Regions from separate parts of the Homo sapiens genome. Here region 2 is linked to region 1. The links come from fine-mapping of genetic effects on gene expression. A gene starts in region 1. The other region holds a variant in brackets. All regions are shown on one strand. Distances are between the middles of the regions. Region 1 holds the start of RGR (retinal G protein coupled receptor). Region 2 has its middle 51 kb from the start of GHITM.

The links. PIP is the estimated chance that this variant, and not a neighbour inherited with it, causes the effect.
Region 2: its variant is the best candidate, but not a certain one, in a credible set for the expression of RGR in visceral fat (GTEx, PIP 0.77).

Annotation. Positions count from the first base shown.
Region 1 is chr10:84,240,918-84,249,940 of GRCh38, reverse strand. RGR (retinal G protein coupled receptor) reads right to left here and starts at 4,888. Exons shown (of 7, transcript NM_001012720.2): 1 at 4,772-4,888; 2 at 2,194-2,350; 3 at 898-1,019. The coding sequence starts at 4,850. LRIT1 (leucine rich repeat, Ig-like and transmembrane domains 1) reads left to right here and starts at 8,395. Exons shown (of 4, transcript NM_015613.3): 1 at 8,395-8,623. The coding sequence starts at 8,502. RefSeq lists an enhancer at 4,243-4,742.
Region 2 is chr10:84,083,854-84,093,581 of GRCh38, reverse strand. No RefSeq gene overlaps it. Among named protein-coding and RNA genes, the nearest start is that of GHITM, 51 kb to the left of the region's middle. The variant A/T (reference allele first, on the strand shown) is at 4,859.

The DNA of each region.
Region 1 (9,023 bases):
GAATGAGCTTGTAGCAGGTGTTTACATTTTAAAAAATGAGTCACTTTTAAGAAAAAAAAAATTAAGGAAAAATGGAGCAGTTTGTACACTGATATGGCCAATTATGAAGATGGTATTTGACAGTGCAGCTTGTGAAATCTAGAGCTGGACAGTTTTCATGAAGCCTCATGGAAGTGTGGGGTGCCAGGGCACATGCCCAGCTACACACACATACACACAGCCTCTCTGCGCCTGTCTGCAGAGTAGTGCCTGTCTGCAAGGGCATTTTCTGTATCCCTGATCTCATTTCATTTTCAAAATAAAACTGAGATTGGTTATTAAAATCATCTCAGCCGGGTACGGTGGCTCACGCCTGTAATCCCAGCACTTTGGGAGGCTGAGGTGGGTAGATCACGAGGTCAGGAGTTCAAGACCAGCCTAGCCAATATGGTGAAACCCCATCTCTACTAAAAATACAAAAATTAGCCAGGTGTGGTGGCACATGCCTGTAGTCCCAGCTACTCAGGAGGCTGAGGCAAAAGAATCACTTGAAACCAGAAGGCCGAGGTTGCAGTGAGCCGAGGTCACACCACTGCACTCCAGCCTGGGCAATAGAGCGATTCCGTCTCAAAAAGAAAAAGAAAATCATTTCGCAGAGGAGGAGACTAAGGTTCAGAGAGGATCCCTGACTTGCCCAAGGTTGCGGTAATGGCAAGAGAGGCCCAACAGCTCTCCTGCACACTCTCCCACCCTCCCTCCTTTCCTGAAATGAGTGCCTATGCATGCACACTCACACCTACCCACACTTCCCTGTACTGGGAAACACGGAGCAGTAGCTAGTTATGACTGCCCCTCCCTGCCTCTTATCCTCTCCACACTGCATCGGTGTCCCTCCACTCCAGGAGCCCAGATACATACGGGTGCAGTAGTGGTGATAACGCCCCCATGCGATGGCTGCACTGCTGCAGATGCTGGCCAACGCTGTCACAAAGCCCTGGAAGCCGTGAGCCTGGCAGCCGTCCGAGCCGTAGGGCCAGCGCCTGTGGGAGACACTGGGCACCAGTGACCTCTCCTCCGATCCTTTCCACCTCCCACACCTGCCAAGTACAGCTTGGAGTGTGTGTTCCTGAATGCTGCCCTTCTTCTCTGAAGAGGGCCTTAATATTGGTGTCTTTCCTATGAGGCGTTGGAGCTCAAGTAACTGGGCTGAAGGGGTGGAGCCCAATGCACACTCTCCAGGCTGGGTGACTTTGACTGCACCATGGTTGGGCCATAGGCTCTCTCTGCGTGATCAGATCCCTCTGTCACAGGAGAGCTCATGCCTGTATTTGATAGGTGGGGAAACTGACATTCAAAGAGGCAAAGATACTGAAGCCAAGGTCACACAGAAGATGAAGGCAAAGTCAGAGGGGAGATCCCAGGCCTCCCCAGCCTAAAAGGGCAAGCAAAGGTGGAAACTTCAATTCTCTGTGGGAGGAAGAGTTCTCACTGATGCAGACCCCCCAGGCTGGTCAGCACTGAGCATGCACATCCGGGGGGGCTCCAGCCTCCGTCTGTAGTGTCCAAAACCAGAATGAGAATGTCCAGTCTGCTTCAGAAAACAATTTTATAAACACCTTCTGAAGCTGTGATGGAAGACCCTGGTTTTTGTATAAGGAGGTATTAGACACTAGCTAGTTATGACTGCCCCTCCCTGCCTCTTATCCTCTCCACACTGCATCGGTGTCCCTCCACTCCAGGAGCCCAGATACATACGGGTGCAGTAGTGGTGATAACGCCCCCATTTGTGTTCACAAACACTTACGTAGAGTCCTAGGTATCAAGCATTATTTTAAGTTATTTACACATAATAGAAGTAAATACTTCCAACCACCTATATGAGTTAGGAAATAATATCCGATTTATGGAAGAAGCCCAGAACTAGAAATGCTGAAGCCAGAATGCAAACCTAGGTTGCTTGGTTACAGAACCCACACCATTGATCTCTACAGCCTACCATCTCTTTCATCAGGTTTCAGCAACCCCTGTCTTCCAGAAATCAGCTGTCGTTCTTCAGAATCAATCTGGAATTCAGCCCATTTTAGCCTGCCCACCCTCTGCCCTTGGCCAATTTTCTGTAAGTAGTAAAAATGCCCTTGGCCTGGCTGCCCAGGGCCCAGGGGTCAGGCCCCAGGCAGGACCCCAGAGCCTGTGGACTGGGGAGGGGGCTGGTACCGGAGAAGGCTGGATGTGGCTGCAACGAGGGCATTCAGGCTGATCCCACTGTCCGCAAGAGCCAAGCTCAGCACCAGTAGGTGGCAGGGAGTCCGCAGCTCCGGGGTCTTGCAGAAAGAGAAGATGGTCAGGGTATTGAGGCTGAGACCGGAGAGAGCTGAAAGGAAGGGTGGGGGCTGGCATTGGGGCTGCTGAGGCCCAGCTGGGGTCAGAACAGTGTGTGTGGGGTGGATGGAACATCAGCAACCTCCTGGACAGACAAGGAAGACAATCAATATAGGGTAGCATGCTTCATGCTATAACAGTCATAATCACTGACAGCTGCCAGGCACTTAGCACACACCAGGCACCAGGATAAGCACTTTATATGAGTCATCTCATTCAATCTTTACTTGGATACTCTCTTCTCCATTTATAGCTGGGAAACTGAGGCTCAGAGACACTAGCTAACTTGCCCTAAGTACACAGCTAGTAAGCGGTGGAGCTGGAACTTGAATTCAGGCCTTTTGGATTTCAAAATGCCTTCTCCAAGGACTGTAGAGCAAAGTCAGAGAGGCTCCAAGGAGAAGAGTCGATGTTAGAGCTGGGAGCTGCCCAGGACGCCAGGCATGGAAGTGAACATGAAGGGGGCGTACTCTGGCAACAGAGAGACCCGACCTTGAATTTTGGCTTGGTTGCCTCGCTTGCTGCTCCTTAAGCTCTCTGAACCTCAGCTTCCCCTATCTAAAGTGAGGAACAGGAAAAAATCCTGCCTTCAAAACTATGAGAAGCACTTACCTGCAGGACAGTGCATGGAAGAGCATTCCAGGAGGGAATAGCATGTGCAAAGACATGCTATGGTACAATGAGATACCACCTTACTCCTATAAGAATGACCATCATTAAAAAGTCAAAAAACAATAGATCAATGCCATGGATGTGGTAAAAAGGGAATGCTTATGCACTGCTGGTGGGAATATGTAAATTAATACAACCTCTATGGAAAACAGTATAGAGATTCCTTAAATAACTAAAAGTAGATCTGCCATTTAATCCAGCCAAAAACACACATGCACATCTATGCTTACCGAGGCACAATTCACAATTGCAAAGATACGAAATCAATGTAAGTGCCCACTGACCAATGAATGGATAAAGAAAATGTAGTATATATACATCATGGAATAATAGCTGTAAAAAGGAATGAAATAATGTCTTATTACAGCAATTTGGATGGAGCTGGAGGCCATTATTGTAAGTGAAGTAACTCAGGAATGGAAAACCAAATGCTGTTTGTTCTCAGTTACAAGTGGGAGCTAAACCGTGAGTACGCAAAGGCATTCAGAGGACACAATGGACTCTGGAGACTCAGAAGGGGAAGGGTGGGAGAGGGAGTGGGATTAAAAAAACCTACAAATGAGGCACAATGTACGCTACTTGGGTGATGAGTGCACTAAAGTCCTAGCATTTGCCACGATGTAATTCATCTATGTAAACAAAAATCACTTGTATCCCCAAAGCTATTGAAATTTAAAACATATTTTAAATAAAATAAAAACCAAAGCATTGTGTATATAATGACATTTCTAGTCATTAAACATGAAATAAAAATGTAAATTTAAACCCCTTCCAAAAAATAAAGTGGTAAAATTTTATGGCATGTTTGAGGACCTGGAAGGATGCTAGATTGTAGGGTTCTCAGGAAAGGGAGACACGGGCTGGGGCCACCAGACAGTCGTGTCCAGAGCCTTCAGGACCAATCTAATGACTGTCACTTCCTCTCCATTGTCAGTTCTCATTAGGTGAGAAAACGTGCTGATGATTTCTCTGGGTCTGCTTTGAACCAAAGCTGCGTTCTCCATCAATTTAGCTTGGGCTGGCCCAGATTCAGGATTGACACTGTCTCTAGCTCTGGCCTCAGCGAGCATCTTAGGGATTCTAGGTTGAGGTAGGTACCTCGCAGACCCAGGTTGCCTCCAGAGGTGAAGTGCTTGGGCTCATAGGAGTAGACACAGTGAAAATAGTGGTGGGGCTGGAGAGGATGGGAGTGAATGAACTTAAATACCCTAGAGTCTATTTAGGCTAGCACTTTATACCCATTATCCCATTTAATCTTTACAACCACCCATTCGGAATGTCAAGGCATTGAGGGCAGAGAGCTGAAGGGACTTGGTTCCAGCCACACAAGAGCAGGAGGCAGAGCTGTCTGTCCCCAGAGCCTTTTGGGGGACTGATCTTATGTGGGATTCTCAGCAGGATTTCCAAGGAGTGGATTAAATTTTCTCCCGGCTGGAGGGACATGAAAAGTCCTAAAGCCTGGCTCTTGATCATCTCCTGGGCAGATGTCCCCTTTCAAAGTCCCTCCCTCCCTGACCCTTGCCTGGCTTCCTCTCTGCTCCCAGCGGGCAGTGTGCTGCACCTCACAGGTTCAATTGTCAGAACACCCCCCGAGTCCGGGCACAGAGGGGAAGGCAGCCAATGGGACCGGACACCCAGCTGGGTTTGGGGACCTCTCCTCTCCTTGCCAGCTCCACACTGGTGGCCTGGGTCCTCAGAACCCACTGGGCCCCCGCTGCACCCCAGGTTCTGCCTGGCTCACCTTCCACCAGTAGCACCATCCCCACAGCCAGCACCTCGAGCTCCCCGAAGCCAGTGGGCAGGGCACTGGTCTCTGCCATCCTCACTCTCCCTCACTGCCAGTGGCCCAGCTGTCTCTGGCTTCCCACAGCCAGGCCCTCCCTTTTAAAGGGCCATCCCATGTGCGTGGAGGCACATGCAGGTTATTATGTTGGACCTTGGGCTGTTTCTGGATGCCTCCCCGCTGCAAATGGTCCTCTTGGCCCAAGCAGAAGGAACCCATTCACGAGTTGGACAATGCAGCCTTTGTGAAGCCAGAATGGAGCCCTGTCTCATTCATTTCAGCCCCATTGCACAGGATTAAGGTCGGGGAATCCAAATGGTGTGTGGCTGAGAGCCTAATTGGAAAAGAGTTGCATAACCAGGGGAGGGGAGCAGGAGGAGGGATTTGAGCCGCAGCTGTTCCCAACAAGCCTGGTGCCTGTGTGTGTGTCCTCAGGCTCACATGAGTATACTCCAAAGCGCTGGGGAAAGGATGAGGCTTGGGAAGTCGCCTGCTGTCAGAGGAAGAACCCCATCTGGGACCAGAAAATGGGGTTGGGGTTCTGGTTCTGAATCTGCCACTAACTAGTTATGCGCCTTGGAGTGGGACCACTGGACTCTTCCGTTTACTTTTCTGCAATGTCAATGTCTTTTGTCTGTGGCCTTTATATAAGTCCTGGTTAGATATCACGAATATAAACCTCAGGGCTGCATTTCCTGTCTCCCATAGAGCACCTGAGCATAAAAAATGTCCTAGGACACTGTCTTAGAACAGAGGGGCTGCCTGCCGTCTTGTCAGTCTCCGACCCCGAACCCGCCCAGCCTTGCCGGCCCCACTAAGAGCTTTGGCTGCTACAAATGACTTCTTGATACACTGGCTCTTTATGCACTGTTATGCTCTGGCTCATGATAAAATTTACACCAGGAAATACTGATCTAGGACAACTTAGTTCATTTTCAGATAAAGAAACCAAGCTCCAGAGCACTATCAGCAACATAGCTAATATTGAGTGAGGTCAGGCCCTGTGCTAGGGGATCTTCTGATGAGTCCTACAACAACTCCATGAGTTAGATACCATTATCCTTTCCATTTTAGATGAGGAAACTGTGGCTAAAAACAGTTAAGAATCTGCCTGAGGCCATGCAGTAATTTATGGATGGAGCTGGAACAAAAGCCGATCTCCTATTCCTCAGGCTCAGGCATTTTTCAATGGCATCTTCTGACTCACCTGGTAGAGCAACCCACTCTGTTCCAGGAATGCCCACTTCCCAGGCCTTTCCTCTCATGAGTCCTCACTTACATCCAAGCCTAATCCCTCTGCAGGGCTGAGCTTATGGCTGCGCCCTCCAGAGCGTTCCCTGTTCTTTCTCAATTTCTTTTTTGTTTTTTTGTTTGTTTTTGAGATGGAGTCTCGCTCTGTCGCCCAGGCTGGAGTGCAATGGCGCAATCTCGGCTCACGCAACCTCTACCTCCCCAGTTCAAGCTATTCTCCTGCCTCAGCCTCCCGAGTAGCTGGGATTACAGGCATGTGCCACCATGCTCGGCTAATTTTGTATTTTTATTAGAGACAGGGTTTCTCCATGTTGGTCAGGCTGGTCTTGAACTCCCGACCTCAGGTGATCTGCTGGCCTTGGACTCCCAAAATGCTGGGATAACAGTCATGAGCCACCCTGCCTGGCCTTCTGTCTCAATTTCTACCTTATGGTGTTGGTTAATACATATGTCAGTCCTTTTTTCATGCCTTCGAGATCACAAAAGCCTTCATGAGAGGAGATAAAGCAGGGCAAGGCCAAGATTAAAGGGTAAAGTTCATTTGGGCAAAAGACACAAGGAGGAAGAAGCAGAGATGTGGGAACAGGCAAGCTGACGGCTGGGTTTGGGGAGGTGGAAGTATAGCTGGGAAGCACTGAGAAAATCCTACTGGCTGCATTGGAAGGAAGGAAAGAATGAGAAGCCAGTATTGTTGAAACAGACCTGGCTCCGAGCTAGGCATTTTATGTGTGCACTGGGGCCCCAGATATCTTTGCAGGTCATACCTCACTGGTCTAGGCCTGCCTGGAGCCACAGGCATGAAGGACTGGGGAACCTTCTAGAAAAGCCAAACAACATAGGTAGGGCATGCTGGACCAGAGAACAATGCCTCAGGGTCAAATGTGAAGAATGAATGAATGAGTCGACTGAGTGTCTACTGCTGGGAATCATCCCTGGTCAGTCCCCACTGGCATCTTGAGTAGATATGGTGGGGCGAGATAGGGTTAGGAGAGAATAAGTAAAAATTGAAATTAGTCTGGGTGCAGTGGCTCAGGCCTGTAATCCCAGCACTTTGGGAGACTGAGGTAGGAGGATCGCTTGAGGCCAGGAGTTTGAGACCATCCTGGGCAACATGGCAAGACCCTGACTGCAAAAAATAATTTTTTAAAAATAGCCAAACATGGTGGTGGTTGCCTGCAGTTCCAGCTACTTGCGAGGCTGAGGCAGGAGGATGGCTTGAGCTCAGGAGTTCGGGGCTACAGTGAGCTATGATTACACCATTGCACTCCACTCTGAGTGACAGAGCAACCCTGTCCCTATAAAGCAAAACAAAGCTTTATGGATGGAGAATTTCCAAAGGCCCTTATTAGAGGTTGGGGTCCTGTCTCCAAAAAAACCTGAAAGTGCCTTCTCTAAGACCTCTCTGAGCTACCTCTCTGGGGCCCTCCTTGGAGTAGGGCACCTTGAGGAGAGGGGTGCCCTTGTCCCTTATGTGGAGACATCTCCACCTTTGGCATTCGTAGCAATGCCCAGAAGGGCTCAGCTGAAATAGTAGTGTGTTGAGTCCATATCCATGGGGCACTCAAGGCAGGCAGCTGTTTGCCTGGCAGCCTGGGACAGTTTGTGGGCTCATGAGAGACACCTCTGATGTCTCCCCAAAATATCTGAATCTGTCCAGTTCTTCTGTAAGTAGGGTCTTATAAGTACCAGTGAAACTGGGCACTTACAACTTGTGAGAGAGCTTCTGTTCCCACAGGCTGTCAAGGCCTTGGAATTTGAGTTTGATTTTCACAAACACCCTGCATGAAGTAACTTTATTTCTCTTTGTCAGATAAGGACACAGAGGCCAAGAGATAATGTGACTCACCCAAGGTCACAGCCCCTTAATGGAGCAGCTGGGATTTGACCCCAGGAAGCCTGGGTCCAGAGCTTAGCCTCCTTCCAATGCCTTTAGCACCATCAGGAAGAGTTGCTTCATTTCACTGCTTTTTTGCTATGAGACAGTGTCACAGGAAAGAATTTCCAAAGGCCCTTACTGAGGCGGGGGTTCTTTCTCCATCTTCCCTGGCACTCCAGTGGGGTCTGTGTTGTCCGTGGCCTTGTTGGGATGGGATGCTTTGCAGATGACAGTCCCATGGCTGCTCGCCTCTGGAAAGCTGCCTACTTGTCTTGCTTTGCTGTGCCCTGCCCTGGCCTCTCTGGGCCTGTGGATATTGCTATGGAAGGGGGTCCCCCGCCCCTACCCTCAGGACTGAGTGATTCAGAAAGCAATAAGCCTCTGAGTGCTGCGGCTGGGACTCCCCTCCCTAATCCCCAGTCTGTCCATGTTTATCCGATGGCCTCAGGAGGGGGTGTAAGGGGCTGGCGAGCAAGTGGGCAGCTGCTGAGCTTGCTGGGCCGGTGGGACGGAGCGGTCCAGGGACAGGCCCCTGCCTGGGCCAGAGAGGAGCCAGGAGCCATGAGGGTGGCATTAGGCATGCTCTGGCTCTTGGCCCTTGCGTGGCCCCCCCAGGCCCGGGGCTTCTGCCCCTCTCAATGCAGCTGCAGCCTCCATATCATGGGTGATGGCAGCAAGGCCAGGTATGGTACCGGGTGCGTGGGACGGGCAGCCCAGCCTCCATTGCTTTGCCAGCTAGGCTGGGTTGGGAGGAGTTGGAGCTGGGGCCCTGGGTGAGGTCTTCATCTCCCTTGGCCCTTGAGGACCAGGGATCCTATGGGGTGGACTGTGCTGCATTGTTTTCCAGCAGGCAAGGGGGTGACTCTATTCGAGAGGTACCAGGTATCTATACACATGGGCCCGAGGGTGAGGCACAAGTATGTCAGTTCTAAGAAGTCCTTCCTAAGTCCTCCTCCAGGCTCCTGGTGAAGAGCCCTCCTTAAAGGTCCAGGAAATCTCCTCCCTTACTGCTTTTTCTTCTCTTTTATTTTTTCTATTCCCTCTTCTTTTCTATATTTCCCCAGCCCCTTCTTTCCCAGGCCA
Region 2 (9,728 bases), 160 kb after region 1:
TTTAAAAATTAAAAAATTTAAAATAATAAAGGCCATATGGAAATATTTGGGTAGTAATTGTCAAATAAAATGAATATTTCTATAGAAATATGCACCAGAAGTTTATTCTTCTTTTTAGGACAGTGCCCAGATCCTGTTGGATTTTTTGTTGTTGTTGTTGTTCCCTCTTCAGTTTTTTATTACAATATTGTAGGGTCAGAGGAAGCAGCTCATCATTTGGTTTAATCTTTTTCCTAGAAAGGATGCTGCCCATAGCTGGGGCTCCCAGTGAGTGACCAGGATTATCCTAGAAACTTGTAAGAATTAAAAATGTGCTACAGAAGCAAAAACAAAACAAAACAACCTATAATTTCAGTGGTCAGAGATAAGCACTGTTAATACAATGGATATATACTTCTAGAACTTATTCTATTAATGTAGGCTAATCCCTGTTTATCTCTCTTTCTTTCATTTATCTATCTTTAAGTTCCCCCAACAAATATGTATCCATAAAGTAATTTTACTGCCTTCAGGACAGTTGTCTTTTTCATGTACACTTCTGTGCTCCTCCTGAGAGAGGGGCTTAGAACTAAACCGTCTCCTGGTCCATCCCCCACAATTTCTGTTTTTTTTTTTTTTTTTTGGTTTGTTTGAATGTTTGCCTGCCTGGGAACTGCCAGCCGTGCCCATCCAAATCTGCAAATCTTCCTCTAGACTTTGGGAGACAGAAAAGTAGCTCCTACTTCAAGAGGTTAGAATCCTCAGATGTGGCACTTTCAAGGAAAAGGGTTGTTTACCTGAGTGATAAGAATATCTGGAGGAGAGCTCATCACTAGTCGGTGTGTAGTTGCTGTGACTCCGTCTGTCCTGGCAATTTCTAATCTGGTCCTGCCTGTGAATTGCAGAGTGCTCCACGGTGTTCTCCAGCACCCCGTGAAGAAAAGCCTGTGATGGGATTGCAGTTCGTTCTGTCTTGCTATGATTGCTTGTCTGTTCCTGTGGCTTCTAGTGGCTCTTTTCCTTGCTGGAGTAAGAAGTTTCCTTTTTTGCTACTTCAACTTGCTATTTCTTAAAAAATAAATAAATAGAGGGCATCCTTTACTTCTACAAGCAAGAAATAGAGGAGAGAGAGCTCAGGAGATTGAGAAATAGAGAATTTCCCTTAACATTCATTACTTTTATTTCAGAACTTTCAGTCACCTCTGGGTCCATCTATCTGTACTCTCTTTTTTTCTGCTGTCTCTTCTAAAGTATTAGCTTATACAGGTTTCAGGAAAGAACTTGGGAATCCAAAAGTCAATAGAATTCAAAGAATTGTCAACATACTTATGTACAATAACCAATCTCAATCAACCTCAAATGAACAGGGCTAAAACTTGTCTATAAAGAAAAGCTATTTCAACTGTTCGCCAAATTATAAGTCTATGAGTCATTTTATTTGCCATCTTCACAGATACCATGTATTAAAGTCATTCACCTACTGGGAATATTTTTGAAAAAATTTATTCTCTCATGGGAAATTACAAAAAATTTAGAATCGCACATTTTAACTACTGAATATTAATGCAACCTTTCCTAACTACTAGTAGAAGAATCAAATCCCTGTTGCAATTAAGGAGTTGGACCAGCCTCTTTCACATGCACAAGTAATTTCTTCACTATGGTATTCATTTTTACTTCAGGATTTAGACAGGATTGTAATGGGACCAATGCAAGCAGAACTATGTACTTTGTAAATGTGCATAAATGTGCCCATCTTTGGCTTTATGAGAATTGATTGTAGTGTTTACATTTGAGATGAATGAGTTCAGAGTCCTTCATTCCATTTGTGACATATACCATTATACGGTGTTATTTTCTGTTAAAAGATTCAGTTAAGCTGATGGTAAAATTGAGTTGACTACCTTGACTTAGCTATGGCATGTCAAATGTCATAACTTGGGAGCCCAATGAGTGGATAGGGATTATACTGATTCTATTAAGACCAGTGATTTTGGAATCAGGAAACTTGGATTTTAGTCCTGTGTCTATTTTTTAAAGTTTTTTTTAGGGGTGGGTGGGCAATCTTTCCTTTATTTTTTAATTTTTTATTTTTTTTGGAGACAGAGTCTTGCTCTATCCCCCAGGCTGGAGTGCAGTGGCATGATCTTGGCTCACTGCAATTTTCACCTCCTGGTTCAAGCGATCCTCATGCCTCAGCCTCCTGAGTAGCTAGGATTACAGGCACCTGCCACCACGCCCAGCTAATTTTTGTATTTTCAGTAGAGATGGAGTTTCGCCGTGTTGGTCTCAAACTGCTGACTTCGGGTGATCCACCCACCTCAGCCTCCCAAAGTGCTGGGATTACAGGCATGAGCCACTGCACCCAGCCCCTTTATTCTTTTTTTTTTTTTTTGCCTTTATTATTATTTCTAATTGTTACATAATAATTGTATACACTTATGGGGGACAGCATGATATTTCTATACGTTATACTATGTGTTATGGTCAAATCAGGGCAATTAGCATATCATCATATGTCTATTAACAACAAAATTAGACAGTTGTGTTTGGGCCGCGTGTGTGTGTGTGTGTGTGCGTGCGTGCACAGATGTGTGTGTGTGTTTATTAAAAAAATGATATAAGTTTCTATGTTCTGAATGTTAGTGTGCCCCCCAGATTCATATGTTGGAACCTAATACCCAATGTGATAGTATTGAAAGCTGGCACATTTTGGGAAGTGATTAAGTTATGAGGGCTCAGCCCTTATGAGTGGGATTAGTACCCTTACAAAAGAGGCTGAAGGGAGCTGCTTTCCACCTTTCACCCTTCGAGGACACAGCACCAAGGTGCCATCTTTGAGGCAGAGATCTGGCCCTCACCAGACGCTGGATCTGCTGGTGTCATGATCTTGGATTTCATGGCCCCCAGAATTGTAAGTACTAAATTCCTGTTGTTCATAAATTACCCAGTATAATATATTTTGTTATAACAGCAGAAACAGAGTAAGACACAAGGTAAGAAGTTTAACATAGCTAAAACATTGCAACTGTGAGCAAGGGATAGAAGATAGCACTGGACAAGTAGATCAGATCATGAAGGATATTATATGTTATGCTAAGGAAATTGGATTTGATTCTATAGGTATTGGGGACACTAATTTTTAAAAATGTCTTAGTTTGAAATAACTTTAGACTTAGACTTACATAAGAGATGCAAAAATGTATAGAATCCCTATTAGTATACTATCTACCCAGCTTCCTCTAATTTCAACATTATACATAACCACATTATAATGAACAAAACAAAAAAATTAACATTGGTATAATACCTAAATACCTAATAACTAAACTACAGACTTTATTCAGATTCTCACCAGTTTTCCCACTAAGGTTCTTTTTCTCTTCCAGGATCGAAGCCAGAATATCAGATTGAATTTAGTTGTCAGGTCTCCATACTATTCTCTAATCTGTGACAGTTTTTCAGCCCTTTTATGGCTTTCTTCACCTTCAAATGTTTGAAAAGTACTGTTCAGATATGTTGTAGCATGTCCTTCAATTTGGGTTTGTCTGAAGTTTTCTCATGATTAGATTGAGGTTATAATTTATGTTAGTCTGTACTTGCGTTACTATAAAGGAATACCTGACACTGGGTAATTTATAACAAAAAGAGGTTAAATTGGCTCACAGTTCTGCGGGCTGTACAGCAAGCATGTTTTTTGGTGAGGCCTCAGGAAGATTTCACTCATGGTGGAAGGTGAAACGGGAGCTTGCATGTCACATGGCAAAGCAGGAGCAAGAGAGAAAGAGTGAGGGGGGAGGTGTGACACACTTTTAAATGACCAGATTGTGTGAGAACTCACTATCATGCAGACAGCACCAAGCTATAGAGTCCTATGGGAAGTAAAACAGAGACTGTGTGTATAGACAATACTATCAGTGGGTTTGAAGGAACCGAGAAAGAGATAAGAAGGTAGGATGGAAGAAGACCCAAGTTAGGAGGTCCTTATTACATCCTCTCCCCTCATCATGCTCATAAACTATGGTTGTAAGTATATTATTTGGTAAGTATGTGTCTTAGTCTGTTTTATGCTGCTATAAAAAAACACCACAGACTGGGTAATTTATTTTTAAAAAATTATTTCTTACAGTTCTGGAGGCTGGGAAGTTCAAAGTCAAAGGGCTGCATCTGGAGAGGGCCTTTGTGACGCCATCCCATGGTGGAAGGTAAAAGGGCAAGAGAGCAAGAGAGAGCCCAGTTGGCTTTGATATCAACACATTCTCGAGATAAACACACTCCAGATGTTAATCCATTCATGAAGGCTCTACCCACATTGCCTAATCAACTCTTAATGGTCTCACTTCTTTATACAATCACAATGGCAATTAAATTTCAACATGAGTTTTGGAGGGTACATTCAAACCATAGCAGTAAGTATAGTATTTATTCTTTATCATTAGCCTAGATAATTCCCCTTATTTCTCTAAGTGCTTTATATTAAAACATGCACAATGTTATCTGATGGTATTCTACATAATTTGTCATTATGTTGTCAAAGAATGTGCTTCACCTGGTTGGCACAGAATCACCTACAAGCATTTTATCTCAATGCTGTTATAGCTCAATTTAGCTTGTTTGGATTGAGTATTTGGAGAAGGTCTCAGTGTGCTCGGTAGATGGGTCAATTTGCTTTGCTTGATCAGGCTCCCAAGTGCCCCTCAGACCTCAGCCTTACAAATGCCTCATTATCAGCTGAATGGAGAGCAAAGTGAAAGGAGAGAAGATAGCTCAGCTCCAATCTATCCCCACGAGGGAATAATAATTCAAAACACATGCCCTGCTCATGCAGGAGCAAGAGTGTTATCTCTGTATAACATTACTCAACATGGAGGTCACATTT[A/T]CCTTAGTAAACAAAATTACTTCCTTTATTCTGTTGGGAAAGAAAAAAATATTTGCCTCTAGAACATCCTTTGAGCATGAGAAATTAAGCCTGGAGTATAATTCATTTGAGCTAAAAGTACAAGAGATTCTGGAGGCTGAATTTGGGCTTGTAACTGTTTATTTACATTTATAATGGACATCTTTTTACTGTGAAAACAACGTAATAATATTACAGAATGTTAAAAAAAAGAAAGAAAACCACTCCTAATCCCATTAACACAGTTACTATCCTTTTTTTTTTCCTGGTTTCTTTCTATATGCATCCATATTTTTACATAATTATAATTGTATGGAATATACAGTTGCATCCTTGGCTGTTTCACTGACTCATGAGCATTATTCTGAGTTGCAATGTAGTCTTTATAATTATTCTTTTTATGACTGTATAATATTCCATGGAATGGATGTGTCCTCAGTTAATTAAGCACTCCTCCACTGTAGAACATTTAGTTTGCTTCTAATTCATCACTACCATAAATAAAGCCATATTGAAAAATGTCTGCTGTATTTTTTTCACCTATATTTTGTATTATTCTCAAGATGTATTTCGAAAGCAAGGTTACTGAGTCACAGAGGATGAACATTTAAGCTCTATCATCTATCTATCTATCTATCTATCTATCTATCTATCTATCTATCTATCTATCTTATATTGCCTTTTAAAGAGTTTACTGATTATGATGTCGCCAGTTAAGGTTTGCTTAGTGAATGTGAGCTAGGAGTTTGGCAGGACTGGTTTCACCAGATATGGGTCACAAAGACCCCACTGATAAAACAGGAGGTGGTAAAGAAGCCAGCCAAGTCCAGTCTCAAGCCTGTAATCCCAGTAATTTGGGAGGCCGAGGAGGGCGGATGGCTTGAGGTCAGGAGTTCAAGACCAGCCTGGCCAACATGGTGAAACCCTGTGTCTACCAAAAAATACAAAAATTAGCCAGGCATGGTGGCATGCACCTATAGTCCTAGCTACTTGGGAGGCTGAGGTGGGAGAATCGCTTGAACCCAGGAGGCAGAGGTTGCAGTGAACTAAGATCATGCTACTGCACTTCAGCCTGGGAGACAGAGTGAGACCCTGTCTCAAAAAAAAAAAAAAAAAAAAAAAAAAGGCCAGCCAAAATGAAGATGGCAACAAAAGTGTCCTCTTGTTGTCCTCACTGCTCATTTTACATGAATTATGATGTATTAGCATACTAAAGGAAATTCCCACCAGCAACATAATGATTTACAAGTGCCATGGCAACATCCAGAAGTGACCCTATATGGTTTGAAATGGAGATAAACCCTCAGTTCTGGGAATTCCCTACTTCTTTCCTAAAAGACTCATGAATAATCCACCCCCTGTTTAGCATATGATCAAGAAATAACAATAAAAATAGCCAACCAGCAGCCCCCAGGCTGCTCTGCCTGTGGAGTAGCCACCCTTTTATTTCTTTTTTTTCTTTGAGACAGCATCTCACTCCGTTGCCCTGGCTAGAGTGCAGTGGCGCCATCTCGGCTCACTGCAACCTCCGCCTCCCGGGTTCAAGCGATTCTCCTGCCTCAGCCTCCTGAGTAGCTGGGACTACAGGCACGCGCCACCATGCCTGGGTAATTTTTGTATTTATAGTAGAAATGGGGTTTCACCATATTGGCCAGGCTGGTCTCAAACTCCTGACCTCTTGATCCACCCACCTCGGCCTCCCAAAGCGCTGGGATTACAGGCGTGAGCCACTGTCCCCGGCTATTTCTTTACTTTCTTAATAAACTTGCTTTTACTTTACTGTATTGGCTGGTTCATTAATTCCTTCCTGCATGAAGCCAAGAATCCCCATGGCCTCTCAGGCTGAACCCCAATTTTGAGGTGTGTGTGCCCTGTGACAGATGGGGAATCCAAAAAGCCAGAGCAGGGTCAAGTGGAATGGGTCTACTCATGTGGGAAGAGGTGGAAGGGCACTGTGAGTTCTTTCCAGGGATTTGCTGAAAACCAAACATAGTGAAGATGAAATTCTGTTGTGAAATTCAAGCCAGAGGTGGACTTCCATGTAGAGGAACAAATGGAAATCGGAAGTCATAAAATGGGTCAAAAGTGTTTTTTTTTTGAGATGGACTCTTGCTCTGTCACCAGGCTGGGGTGCAGTGGCGCGATCTCAGCTCACTGCAACTTCAGCCTCCCGGGTTCAAGCGATTCTCTTGCCTCAGCCTCCCGAGTAGCTGCGACTACAGGCGCATGCCACCATGCCTGGCTAATTTTTGTCTTTTTAGTAGAGACAGGCTTTCACTGTGTTGGCCAGGATGGCTTCGATCTCTGGGTCAAAAGTCTTATCGACTCTTAAAAGATTAAAGAGACAATGGGGATGGAGAAGCCAAAAGGGGTATGAAGTACTAGGCAATTTCAGCCAGAAGTTTTGAAGTGTGAATAGGTTACAGGCTGGGCATGTATGGAACTGACACACTGGAGTATTTCAGATATGCACAATAACACTGGAGTTGGCAAAAATTAAAACTTATTTAGTGTTCACTCTCTGCTGGATACTGTCTTAAGCTTTTAATGGATTCTTTCATTTAATCTTTACAACATTCACAGGTGCTACTATTATTCCCATTTTCCAGTGAGAACACCAAAGCATAGAGATAAGTGGCCAAGTGACTTTCCTAAGGTGACACAGTGGTCAGCTGTGGAGCTGATTCAAATCCAGGCCATCTGGCACCTGGCTTCTGCTCCACTGTTCTCTCTGCTCTTCTGGAGTTTCTTATTTTGTGAATGTAGTGTGGGTAAAAAATACATCATTCTTCTTTTAATTTTTATTTCTTTGGTTTCTAGTCTTGTTTAATATTTGAGTAAGACATTTTTAACATAACTTTGGGACATGGATGATGGGATCATTTACACATTTGAAAAATGTACCCATGGACAAGGAAGTGAACATATTCTATATAATAACATATTGATATTGAGACTATGCGAAACTGAGTAGAGACATCCAATTAAAAATTATTATTATTATTATTTTAGATACAGGGTCTTGCTCTGTCACTCAGGCCAGGGTGCAGTGACACAGTCATAGCTCACTGCAGCCTCAAACTCTGAGGCTCAAGTTATCCTTCTGCCTCAGACTTCTGAGTAGCTAGGACTACACCACAATGCCCAGTGAATTAAAAAGTTTTATTTGAAGAGATGGGGTCTCACTATGTTGCCCAGGCTGGTCTTGATTTCAAGGCCTCAGGTGATCCTCCTGCCTCAGCCTCCCGAAGTGTTGGGATTACAGGTGTGAGCCACTGTGCCTGGTCTCAATTTTCAAATTCAAGAATGTTTGCCTGACACTGATACTTCCTAGATTATGGCTATATATTTATTGTAAATATTCCATCTTTGAAATAAAGGGGAACACAGTGATGGCTTATTATTTCAATGTGTCAGGAGCCATATCTCATTGTGCCTGGAACCAGATCTCTTCAAATGTAATCATTATAGTTAAAAGATTGTCTTTGGGGTAGAGTGAGCTAGGAATGAAATCAGGCTCTTCTAGAGGAAGTTTGTGGATGTTCTGGGAAGAAACACCACCCCCAGCCTCCTGGGTTGTCATGCTCCTACTCCTGTTTCCCAGTAGAAGTTCTGAGGAAGATGCTTCACTGGCTTGGAGAATCTTTGGTTTTGAAATGCCTTATACATTTATTTTTTCTTTTTAATCAAAAGCCTTTCTTTATGTAACATTGTAATTAGGTTAATGCTGAAAGGACTTCTGGTTTCAGCTTCTATATGTGAAGAAATTGGAAGTTGTCACTTCCATTTTTACAACCATAAAAACCTAGTCAAATTGAAAACTAATGACTTTTCTTGGACTTATTGTGGAATGAGGTTGCAGGGCAAACCATCACCCTGAAATCTGGGGAGACAGGTCCCTCCAAAGAGACACAGTTAACAGCTACCTACCTAAGATGGAAGCTTCTGGAGTCATAAACTATAGCACTTTGGTGTTATGTTGGGAAATTGCTGGAGGTTGAGTGTGGATTAGCATGAGGGTGAGGTTGAGTAACTCCTGGGGAGTGCAGTCTTAGGGTGACTGCCACAATTCCATGGGTTTTTAGCTTCAAGAACCTTACTAGGTTCTCATGATGAATATCAGAAAAATCTTTTTGTAACTCTGGCAAGGAGAGAGTAATCATTGTGAAATATGCACATAGTCTTCATAATGAATACCTACTCTCCAGGGATAAAAATTTTGCCGGGAAATTGTTGCACCAAGAAGAGACAGATTCCTTTTTCTTCAACCGTCTCTAGCCTTCCTGTCTCACCGGACAGGGGAAAAACATAGACAACAGATGTGAGGGCTTTAAGAAAATAGACTATAAATTACACAGCCAAGGAAGGCAGGGAGAAAAAAAGCTATATTGTGATGAAACTCTTGTGAAGGTCACAGCACTGAGTCACAGGTCCACTAAAATATTGAGATTTAATCAGACTATAGGACACTTCTTCCATTCATCTTACCACCACACCAACAGGGCTCCAGTATAATAACAGCAGATTGCAGCCAAGAAACTGCAAGGTATATACTCTATCTAAGGAGGAGTACTTAGGGAAGCCTAAAGTCAAGAGGGGAGACACCAATAAGGACACTTGGGGGAATTTGAAGCCTCTGGCATAGCTGCAGCAAACATTAAAGATAGCCTAACTCCTACCCAGATGACCACAAATCTTCACACTAAAAACTTATTTAACCCTTATTACCTGATACAACACATCTGGGCTTTGACATAAAATTACAAGGCATACTAAAAGTCAAGAAAAACTTCTAGAGATAAAATACTACCATCAGAATCAGATTCAAACATGACACAAATTTTGGAATTAT